Linked DNA regions of Homo sapiens. The protein of the gene in region 2 purifies or fractionates together with the protein of the main gene of each other region. This does not show direct contact. Each region holds a gene or a part of one and is shown on either strand. Other genes may lie near its edges. The genes, in order: STRN4, GEMIN2 and SNRNP70.

What was found.
Region 1: the proteins of GEMIN2 (region 2) and STRN4 purify together in Homo sapiens (affinity purification with mass spectrometry; 2 studies listed by BioGRID and IntAct, with this or other methods). This does not show direct contact.
Region 3: the proteins of GEMIN2 (region 2) and SNRNP70 purify together in Homo sapiens (affinity purification with mass spectrometry; 6 studies listed by BioGRID and IntAct, with this or other methods). This does not show direct contact.

Annotation. Positions count from the first base shown.
Region 1 is NC_000019.10:46,739,851-46,743,597, reverse strand, and holds part of STRN4 (striatin-4), read left to right. Parts: intron 1-3,747. UniProt on the Homo sapiens protein: Calmodulin-binding scaffolding protein which is the center of the striatin-interacting phosphatase and kinase (STRIPAK) complexes.
Region 2 is NC_000014.9:39,112,739-39,116,485, reverse strand, and holds the start of GEMIN2 (gem-associated protein 2), read right to left. Parts: upstream 2,164-3,747; 5' UTR 2,148-2,163; coding exon 2,011-2,147; exon of another isoform or gene 1,658-2,010; coding exon 1,573-1,657; intron 798-1,572; exon of another isoform or gene 621-797; intron 1-620. UniProt on the Homo sapiens protein: The SMN complex catalyzes the assembly of small nuclear ribonucleoproteins (snRNPs), the building blocks of the spliceosome, and thereby plays an important role in the splicing of cellular pre-mRNAs.
Region 3 is NC_000019.10:49,083,244-49,086,990, reverse strand, and holds the start of SNRNP70 (U1 small nuclear ribonucleoprotein 70 kDa), read right to left. Parts: upstream 1,541-3,747; 5' UTR 1,355-1,540; intron 587-1,354; 5' UTR 577-586; coding exon 430-576; intron 1-429. UniProt on the Homo sapiens protein: Component of the spliceosomal U1 snRNP, which is essential for recognition of the pre-mRNA 5' splice-site and the subsequent assembly of the spliceosome. SNRNP70 binds to the loop I region of U1-snRNA.

The DNA.
Region 1 (3,747 bases), on a different chromosome or scaffold from region 2:
ATGTTCTGTACCTCTCTGCTACCCAGTACAGTTGAGAAAATTGGTTCAGGCAAGCATAGTGGCCTCCCCAGGGTCACCCAAGCAGTCATAGCAGAGCTTGGACTGAATCTTGGCCTCTGGGACTTTGCACCAGTGCACCGCACAGCACCCACCACACCATCTTCTCATCCTGGAGGCTGATGAGAGAAAAGATGTTTATCCCCTCACTTACTGACCCTTCTTGGAGTTTGAGAGGAACTTGTGTCTGGCATGGTACCAGCACTGTCACTTTGTACTTTTGTTTTCTTTTATTCTGTTAAGTTAGTAAAAATTCAGACATCTCAGAGGGGTGTGTGTGTGTGTGTGAGTGTGTGTATACACATATATATGTAAGTGAAAAAGGAAAGTTCCTTCTCTTCGTCCCTTTCCTGCTCTTCTCTCCTGAGAGAGAAGAGTTATTGTGCTTATGTAATAGATGAACTACTGCTGTATGTATCATTTTGTGACATAATAATCTGTTTTGGTTTTCCTTTCATATCAGCACAGAGAACTCTTTCTTTTTGATAGCTGCATAGCGTCCCACGGGATGTTTGCACCATAGCTGATTGAGTTTGACCCTGGTTGGTGGACTTTTAGATTTTTTCTAGTTTTTCCCCCATCAGACATGGCTGCAGTGAGAACCCCTTATTCCTGTGCAAGAATGAAGCAGAACAGATGAGTGGAATAGTAGAATGGATGTGTTTATGAAACAGTGATTGGGCTGGGCGCGGTGGCTCGCGCCTGTAATCCCAGCACTTTGAGAGGCCAAGGCAGGTGGATCACAAGGTCTGGAGTTCAAGACCAGCGTGGCCGATATGGTGAAACCCCACCTCTACTAAAAATACAGAAATTAGTCGGGCGTGGTGGTGGGCGCCTGTAGTCCCAGCTACTCGGGAGGCTGAGGCAGGAGAATCGCTTGTACCCGGGAAGCAGAAGTTGCAGTGAGCCGAGATCACACCACTGCACTCCAGCCTTGGTGACAGAGCGAGATGCCATCTCAAAAAAAATAAAAATAAAAAAAGAAACAGTGAATGACTCTGCCACATTGACCCACCAGTTTACTCTCCCATCAGCGGCACCTCTTTTACACACCTTTACTTGAACACTTAGTGCTAACAGACGGTGTGACTTCCCCTGTGAGATCCCTTAAGAGCTAGGCAGTGTCAGATTTTCCTGATGGACTCTGAATAACTTTTCTCTGAAGAGCTTAATACAGCTGCTCCTAGCAGAAGACCTGCCGTGCGACCCTGCTTGGTACCTGTGTGTTGAATGGCAGAGAAGGCAGCCCCCAGGGAGGTCCTGCCAGTAGTCACCATAAGTTTGGAGCAGGAAGGTGGCGGAGCTGCAGTCTGATAATGAGCAGGCATTTGCTAGGTGGGGGATTCTGAGAAGTAAGTAACGTGGTTTCTGCCCATCCGAAACTTCCAGGCTGGCAGAGGAAGCTTGTTTGTGCAGGGGACCGCAGAGCTGTAGATGTTCATGCACAGTTGATTGTGTGGCTCTGCCCCTGTTCTGTGGCAACTCTGAGAGGGGAAGCTTTTTGAGGATGGGAGGGACCTTTTAATGAGGGATCTGAACTGGAGATTTGTATAGGAGCAGCGACAGGGACCTGCAGTGAGTGCGGTGCCAGCAGAGAATGTGCGGAGCTGCCCCTGCCCACTTCAGCTTCCTGGGGGCCCATTCCTGCCAGCAGCTGCTGAAGCTTGGGAAGGAGGCCCTTAGGAGATGCAGGGCTAGATGGCACGAAACGGGGACTCTTCCCAGCTAGCTGGGACAGGAAGCAGCGAATTCAGAGAGGCATCAGCTCCTGGGAGGACTGAATTGCTGGGACTCCTCCGAAGCCTTTAGATGTCGCCTTGCTGGGAATAGCTGGAGGGGCGGAGAGGCAGTAGCTGCCAGGTATCAGAAGGTTTTGGGAGCGCATGCTCTGCGGCTCTGGCTAGAGGGAGTGGCAGTGGGTGGATATGGTGAGCGGCACTTCCAGATCCCCGACCGACCCTCAGGCCTACCTTGGCCCTCGCAGACCAGACAGCCCGTGGGGGCTGCTGGCGTTTGCAGCGAGGGAGAGACTGGCCACTGACGCTTCCCGTTTTTGGTGGGTTTCCACCTCCCTGAGATGCTCCAACCATGTCTTTCTGGTTCTCTTTCCAGAGGCACTGGGAAAGGGACAGCAAAGCAGAGTGGGCAGCTGAGACCCTCACATCCTCATTAGGAGGAGGGAGACCACAGCTCGATGAGGCAGCAGAGGGATGAAGGGGGAACCCAGCCAGTGACAGGTCTGGTTGGGATGCCCAACTCCACCTCCTGCCCCCACAGATAGACCACTACTGTGTCCACTGCCCCGGCCTAGTCCAAGCCACTACCGTTCTGTCCTGGGATTTCTGGGACTGCCCTCATCTGTGATGGGGGTCTCTGTGTCCAGCTCTGCCGCTCTCCTGCTCCCTCCCTCTAGTCTCCCTCCAGAACTCCCTCCAGTCAGTTCTCCATGTTTTAGCTGGAGCTGCCTTTATAACATGCGAATCGGTTACCTCTCTGTACTTAAAACCCTTCCATGGCTTCACTGAGCCTTTTACAGGTTCTGAAGCAGCCATCCTGGCCTTTTTTAGAGTTCCTTAAGCCCACCATGCAGCTCTTGTCTCCGTCCTCTGCCAGCAGGGCCCTTCCCTCCCCTGGCTAACTTCTCTTCAGCTTCAGGCCTTAGCTGAATTGTCGCCTCTTGTCCCTCTTCCCATAGCGTCCTTCGCTCCCGCAATGGGGTCCTAGTCACATTGCATGTGAGTTGCTGCTCATGCCTGTCTCCTGCATGGGACTGAGCCCTGTGGGTGCAGGAACCACATGGCTCCTCTGTTATTCCCCAGCGCCTTACTGGGGCACCTGATGTGTGTGGGCAGTCACCAAACAGTGGCAGGTATTGACCAAGGTGTAGGTTCCCGGCAGGCTGAACTGCCCCTGGGAGGTTGAGGGATCAATCACCAAACCCCAGGAGGGAAGGGAGGAGAGTGAGGAGGAAAGTCAGGACTTGTCTTCGGTGGTCGGTCTGCCTCTCCTCACACCTTCTCCAGTGATTCAGAGAGTAGATTTGGGGGACTGAGAAGATACACAAAGGACAGAAACTCATGCTTCAGAGATGCTGATGTCATATAAGTAGTTTCCCTGTCTGGCCTTGGATGTTTATATACATATGTGTTGGTAAAAAGTGTTAAAAAGGAAAAAAATTTCCCATTCTTGAAGCGGACAGATGAGTTTTCTTTTCTATAAGGTAACTGGTGACATGTATTTCTTTTTTTTTTTGAGACGAAGTCTGGCTCTGTCGCCCAGGCTGGAGTGCAGTGGCACGATCTTGGCCCACTGCAATCTCCACTTCCCAGGTTCAAGCGATTCTCCTGCCTCAGCCTCCCGAGTAGCTGGGACTACAGGTGTGTACCACCATGCCTGGCTAAGTTTTTTGTATTTTTAGTAGAGATGGGGTTTCACCATGTTGGCCAGGCTGGTCTTGAACTCCTGACCTCAAGTCATCTGCCCACCTCAGCCTCCCAAAGGGCTGGGATTACAGGCGTGAGCCACTGTGCCTGGCCAATCCACAGACATTTCTAGTTGATCTGGGGTCTCCAAGGGATCCTACCTCCCGTAAGGAACTGGGCCCATTTCGAAGTTGCGAACAATGGACAGGGAGAATAAAAATGATGAAAGAAGTAGAAGCTGGCATTTGTTAGCCTTTATTCTGTGCCA
Region 2 (3,747 bases):
GAGATCGCGCCACTGCACTCCAGCCTGGGCGACAGAGCGAGACTCTGAGACTCCATCTCAAAAAAAAAAAAAAAAGAAAAAGAAATAAAATAAAATGCCACCCTCCTTTGAGCTTAGGTTAAATAGCACCTCCTTAGAGAGACCTTTGCTGGCCAGGCGTGGTGGCTCACATCTGTAATCCCAGCACTTTAGGAGGCAGAGGCAGGCAGATCACTTCAGGTCAGGAGTTTGAGACCAGCCTGGCCAACATGGTAAAACCACGTCTCTACTAAAAATACAAAAATTAGTCAGGTGTGGTGGCACACGCCTGTAATCCTAGCTACTCAGGGGGCTGAGGCAAGAGAAGCTCTTGAACCTGAGAGGCAGAGGTTGTGATGAGCTGAGATTGTGCCACTGCACTCCAGCCTGGGCGAAAAATTGAGACGCAAAAAAAAAAGGGGGAAAAAGAGAGCCCTTCTATGATTCCTCTACAGTAGTTCTGTCATTTATTGATTATTATACATGCTTATTTTCTTCATAGCAATAATCACAATATGTAATTATTTGTTTGCTTGTTTACTCTCTGTCTTCCTCAGGAGGGTATGTAAACTCTACAAGGGTAGGAACCTTTTTTGTCTTACCCTCTGTTGAATTCCCAATGCCCGGCACAACCTAGTTGCTTAATTAAAGATGTGCTGGATAAATAAATAAATGAAAATGTCCAGAGTGTGCAAGTAGCTATAAAAGTGTAAGGCCGGGTATGGTGGCTCACACCTGTAATCCCAGCAGTTTGGGAGGCAGAGGTGGGCGCATCACGAGGTCAGGAGTTCAAGACCAGACTGGACAACATGGTGAAACCCCGTCTCTACTAAAAATACAAAAATTAGCCGGGTGTGGTGGTGGGCGCCTGTAATCCCAGCTACTCGGGAGGCTGAGGCACGGTAATCGCTTGAAACCGGAAGGCAGAGGTTGCAGTGAGCTGAGATCGCACCACTGCACTGCAGCCTGGGCAACAAGAGTGAAACTGTCTCAAAAAAAAAAAAAAAAAAAGTGTAAGACATCTGGGTTTCTATTCTTAAAAAAAGTGAAACTTGGTCAAATTCAGAACATGCAAAGCACACTAAGATTAAACACCAATCCAATAACTGGAAAAAGTTCCTTAAAAAATAAAGGGGCCAGGTGAGGTGGCTCACGCCTGTGATCCCAACGCTTTGGGTGGCAGAGGAGGGAGGATCACTTGAGGCCAGGAGTTCCAGACCAGCTGGCAACAGAGACTCCCTCTCTATAAACAAACAAACAAGCAAAAAATAAAAGATAACATAAGTAACCCATTTAAAGACTCCTTTGAAAGGACTGGATAATGTCCTGAAGTAAGATGGGCAACACTCCACAAAGGCTAGAGTTACAGAAAGCCTCTTTAGAGGCAGTAAATGCCAATTGTCTTTCTGAAGGAAAAAGTACAAGCGAATGTCTAACTTTGCACGGAGTAGTCAAATCTTACGTCATAATTGATGCTGTCAGATACTATAGGAAGAGCGTTAGTCTTTTAATTGGGGGGTTGGGGGTAATCTCCAGACGGTTAATAAAACTCACAGAAATATTCACACTTTGCTTCCTTTTCAACTTCTTTGGGTCAATTTGAGCTACCACAACATCTGGACATTGAGCTGCTTCGATCCTACAAATAAGTAATAAACGCGATAAATTAAATTTCTGTTGTGCTTTGCTCAGGTGTAGTAAAACAAGCGATCCACTTCCACAGTTCATTGTGAAATCAGAAAAAAATTCAGACTTCCAATTGAGGTACTAAACAATGTATTTCTGAAATTATCTGGATTGAAAACAAATCTAAGAGCACACATCTTGATACGTGCAATCACGTTCAACAGAAACTCGCCCACGTTAGGATGTAATCCAGAATCCTGAATAGACCTGAACTCGCAACAGACTGGAACGGGAATAGAGCACCGAGGGCTGTACCCAGGGGCAGGGCAGAAGACCAGCCCACCCGCCCAGGGCCGAATCACTCACTGGACCCGCCTCAGGTATTCCTGAGGCGTCCTCGGGGGTACCGAGGGATCGAAACCTTCCGTCAAGTCGCAAGGCTCTACCGGCAATAGCCGAGGCATCAACTCTTCCACTGCGGACTCCGCTGGTACCCACGCCATGGTTTTCAAACCAGCCAGTTCCGCTCGGCGCATGCGCCCATTCTAGGTCACAGCGCAGGCGTACTAATAGACACCTTAGGCGCGGAGCTGAGCAAGTGGCAGTTTAGGGAGCGTTAACTGCGCATGAACAAATTGCTGCTTGCCTCAAGGTTAAGGCTCCGGTGGTGTAATAAAGGATCTGAGAATTTAATTCCTAGCTGAATTGGTTCGAACGCGTTTCTGGGACTTTTACCCTCTGTTTTGTCTTCTAACGCTGGGTAAAGGCCGAGGGTTAGCAACTTTTATGCATCCCTAGTAGTGAGGGATCCTTAAAAATGTTTTTTGAATTAATGAACAATATTACTGTAATTATCATTCATGGAGCTCTAAATTCTTAAACTCTTCATAAACACATTTTCTCATTTGATTCTTAGAACAGTCTTGTGAAGTGGGTGGTAATATACCGCTCTCTTAGGGCAGGGACTGACCTTCCAAAGAGGAAGAACCAATTCCAACCTAGATTTATGCGATGCCAAATGAATGAAAAATTAATTTTCTACAGAAATTTCTAGTGCTTGACCACTTCAAAGATCACTGTATGTTTATTTGGAATGAATATTACTCCTAGAATAGCCAGCACTTTTTAATTTTTGTTTTAAAGAAAAATCTCTTCGTTTAAATACAAATAGTGAAAAAAATGAAACTAATGCTAACACCCAGAAATTAACAAAAATGTTAGGTCAATCTTGTTAGGTAGATAGTATTATTATCTCCATTTCATAGGTGAGGAAACAAGGCAAGAATGTGCAAGAAACAAGTATAATATCTGATTATTTCTAAACAAATACAATTGAGTGAATACAATTGACTTATTTTCTAACACTGATGTTTATTTTAGAAGGTTAAAAATTTTTATTTATGGCACTGCCTTTAGTTTGCAAGGAATTGATTTCAAACCAGGATGTAAGTCTAAATTGAAGATAAAGTGAGGATAGTCCTTAGCTTATTTAAGTACTTAATGCTTAGGAACTGTAACTAAACAATTGGGACACTTGGAAAGATATCACCTGGCTGCAAACTACAGTTATTTGGTTAACAAATTTTCACTGGTTTTGGGAAAAACAGACTTAGAATAGGGAGAAATACTCCTGTCGTCCAACATTTTGGTGATAATCAAGGACAAATTTGAAAAAGTAAGTAGTGACGTGAGGACTAAACTGAATTTTTTTTTTTTTTTTTTTGAGACGGAGTCTCGCTCTGTCGCCCAGTCTGGAGTGCAGTGGCGCAATCTCGGCTCACTGCAAGCTCCGCCTCCCGGGTTCACGCCATTCTCCTGCCTCAGGCTCCCGAGTAGCCGCCGGGACTACAGGCACTCGCCACCACGCCCGGCTAATTTATTGTATTTTTAGTAGAGACGGGGTTTCACCTTGTTAGCCAGGATGATGTCGATCTCCTGACCTCGTGATCCACCCGCCTCGGCCTCCCAAAGTGCTGGGATTACAGGCATGAGCCACCGCGCCCGGCCTGATTTTTTTATTTTGCCCAAATTCCTATCTAAGGGGTCTGGGGAGTCATGCCCTACAAATCATAAATTCTCATCAGATGGGTTTTATTTAACCCT
Region 3 (3,747 bases), on a different chromosome or scaffold from region 2:
TGGTCTTCAACTCCTCACCTCAAGTGATCCGCCTGCCTCGGTCTCCCAAAGTACTGGGATTACAGGCGTGAGCCACCGTACCGGGCCACAACCCCACTTAAAAAAAAAATTTTTTTTTTGAGAGACGAAGTCCTGCTCTGTCACCCAGGCCGGAGTATAGTGGCACAATCACAAAGCACTCCAGCCTCCGACTCCTGGGCTCAAGCAATCCTCCCACCTCAGCCTCCTGAGTAGCTGAGACTACAGACGCACTCGACCACACCCGACACCCGGCTCCAACCCCATTTAAAACAGAGAAACTGAGGATCACAAAGGTTAAGCCCCTCGCTTAAATCACGCAGCTGGCAAAATGGCCAGAAGCTGGACTCGCAAATCCAACCCGTTGCTCCCCAGAACCCAAACCATTCCTGGCCTGCTCAGTGAACTCACCTCAAACTCTCGAATGTACGGCGCAATGCCACAATAAGGTTGATTGTGGTGTTTTTCATGTGGCAGTTTCTCCAGGGGTGGCAGGTATGGAATAGGGTCACGGGGGGCAAAGAGGGCCAGAAGGTTGGGCGGCAGGAACTGGGTCATCTTGCCAAGTCTGAGAGCAGAAGCAGGACAGCCTTAGGTTAGATCGGGTCTGCACAGAGAAAGCCCCTGTTACTCCTTGACTCTCAAAATAAGAAAGACAGGAGAAAAGTCTCGGAATTAAAACAGGCTCTGTAAGGGCAGAGAACAGTCCTGTGTTGCGGAGAAAAGGGTACGTCTTGGTGGGGGTGGAGGTGAAAGGCCGGTAAAGAAAACAAAAATAACGGCTGGAAAAGGGTTCCTGAAGAGTGAAGTCTCAGAGTCCTCTGACACGAGCTGTGGGGCGGAGAGGTTCCCTGGGAATTTCTGGGGAAATCAAGGACCCGAGGAGGGAGGCCCAGAGCAGCTGTGGCTGCTCGTCCCGTGCCGTGGAGGGCAAATTACGAGATGCAGTTTGCAGGGTCCTGGGGATCGGAAGTTTCCAAGCAAAGAAAGAGAAACATAAGGAGCGAAGCCCCAAAACCAAGTGCTTGTGGGTAACAGACCTGGACCCCGCAAAAAGCGAAAGGAATTATGGGTAAGGGTCCAGGACAACATAGACAAACGAAAAAGAAAAAAGGCCACACACCGCAAGGGCCTGTGGGTAGGGAACCACGAGGGCGCTGTGGGAAGCGGGCGTGGGTGCCCAGAGATTTCGGGGTCCGGGAAAGGGATGCAGAAGGGACCTGTGGCGGGGACGCGGGAAAGGGGCCTGGCCGCGGGGAAGAGGACCGGGCCCACCGCTGGGGCTTCTGGGTAGCGGCCCCGCACCCCGTCGGGCCACTCAGTCACACTCACTCACCGCGTAGCGCCCTCCTCGCTCTGGCGTCTGTCCGGAGGCTCGCGGCGGCTGCGGCAGCCCCTCAGCAACAACAACTCCTGCTTCGGCTTCCACTCCGGGGGCGTCCACGTCCGTCTGATTCCGTCGCCCGCTAAGCGAGCGCACCAGGCCGCTGCTCAGCCACCCGCGCGGCCTCCGATAGCGACTGGAGCAGGGGGTGGGTCCCGGCCGCAAATCCCTCCGCCGTCCTCACTGCGCACGCGCCGTGCGGTGCCAACAACAACCCACACACTAGGACCCGGCGCTGCCGCGGGCACAGCGCACGCGCGAGGTCACTACCCCGCCTTTGGGCACCTTGAGTACCTCAGCCGCGGGGGGCTGGCTTCTGCACTGCGCGCGCGCGCTTGCCCCAAGCCGCCCCTCCACCTCCCGCTTTCCGCGCCGAACCGCCTATGTCCGCGAGACTCTCCCTGATGCTCCGCCCCTTTCCGATCACACTTCCCGGATCTTTCGCGCATGCGTTTTGCGTAGAGAACTGTAACGTACCTCTCCGCCGCCTAGCAAAGAGTCCCTAGGTGAACAGCCTGATTGCGTTGATGTCTAATCTATTCAATCAATAACTATTCATCGAGCATCTCGTGTGTGCTAGGCACTGTCTGGGCTTTGGGGGTACAGCACGTGATTAAAGCAAAGTCTTCTGCTGCTAGGGCTTACATTGTACTGGGAGAGACAATAAAAGCATTTAACTGAATAAAGATAATTTGAGGCCAGGCGCGGTGGATCACGCCTGTAATCCCAGAACTTTTGGGAGGCTGAGGCGGGCAGATCACCTGAGGTCAGGAGTGTGAGACCAACCTGACCAACATGGTGAAAGCCCGTCTCTACTAAAAATACAAAAATTAGCCGGGCGTGGCCGTGCGCGCCTGTAAGCCCGGTTACTCTGGAGGCTGAGGCGGGAGAATCGCTTGAACTCGGGAGGCGGAGGTTGCAGTGAGCCGAGGTCGTGCCATTGCACTCCAGCCTGGGCGACAGAGCGACTCCGTCTCAAAAGTAAATAAATAAATAAATAATAAAAGATAATTTGAGATAGTGGCCAGCATAATGAAGAACGATGGAGCAGAATAAAGGGATGGGAAGTGAGAGCGAGGCTGTTTTAGAAAGGGTGATAATGGAAGGCCCCTCTGAAGAGGTAACATTTGAATAAAGGACAGATAGAAGCGAGATCTGGGGTGGGGCCGGGGGGGCGGTGTTTAACAGTAAGTGCAAAGGTCCTGAACTGAGACCAGATGGCAGGAATCTCAGGTTGTTGGCCATGAGATCAGAGAGCTGGCACTTGTTATTTAGAGCCCTGTTCTTAAGTATTGTATCTTAAGTTTTGTGGATGGATTCAATAGCCTGTTTAATAACTACAGAAATTATTGCAAATTAAAATGACTAATTTTATGTTTCAAGAAAAAGGCCGAGTGCAGTGCTCACGCCTGTAATCCCAGCACTTTGGGAGGCCAAGGCGGGCAGATCACCTGAGGTCAATAGTTCGAGACCAGACTGATCAACATGGAGAAACCCCGTCTCTACTAAAAATACAAAATTAGCTGGGCATGGTGGCACATGCCTATAATCCCAGCTACTTGAGAGGCTGAGGCAGGAGAATCACTTGAACCTGGGAGGCAGAGGTTGTGGTGAGCCAAGATGGCACCATTGCACTCCAGCCTGGGAGACAAGAGCAAAACTCCGTCTCAAATAAAAAAAAGAAGTGGGAGGATCGTTTGAGCCGAGAAAGTTGAGGCTGCAGTGAGCCAAGATTGTGCCACTAGACTCCAGCCTGGGCGACAGAGCGAGACTCCGTCTCAAAAAAAAAAAAAAAAAAAGAAAGAAAAGGGCTGGGTGTGGTGGCTCACACCTGTAATCCCAGCACTTTGGGAGGCCGAGGTGGGCGGATCACCTGAGGTCAGGAGTTCGAGACCAGCCTGGCCAACATGGTGAAATCCCATCTCTACTAAAAATACAAAAATTAGCTGGGAGTGGTGGCACGCACCTGTAATTCCAGCTACCTGGGAAGCTGAGGCAGGAGAATTGCTTGAACCCGGGAGGCAGAGATTGCACGACTGCACTCCAGCCTGGGCAACAGAGTGAGAATCTGTCTCAAAAAAACAAATAAAATAGGCCGGGTGTGGTGGCTCACACCTGTAATCCCAGCACTTTGGGAGGCCAAGGTAGGAGGATCCCTGAGATCAGGAGTTCAAGACCAGCCTGGGCAACATGGCGAAACCCCTTCTCTACTAAAAATACAAAAATTAGCTGGACATGGTGGCATGCACCTGTAATCCCAGCTACTTTGAAGGCTAAGGCAGGAGAATCGCTTGAATCTGGGAGGTGGAGGTTGCAGTGAGCTGAGACTGTGCAACTGCACTCCA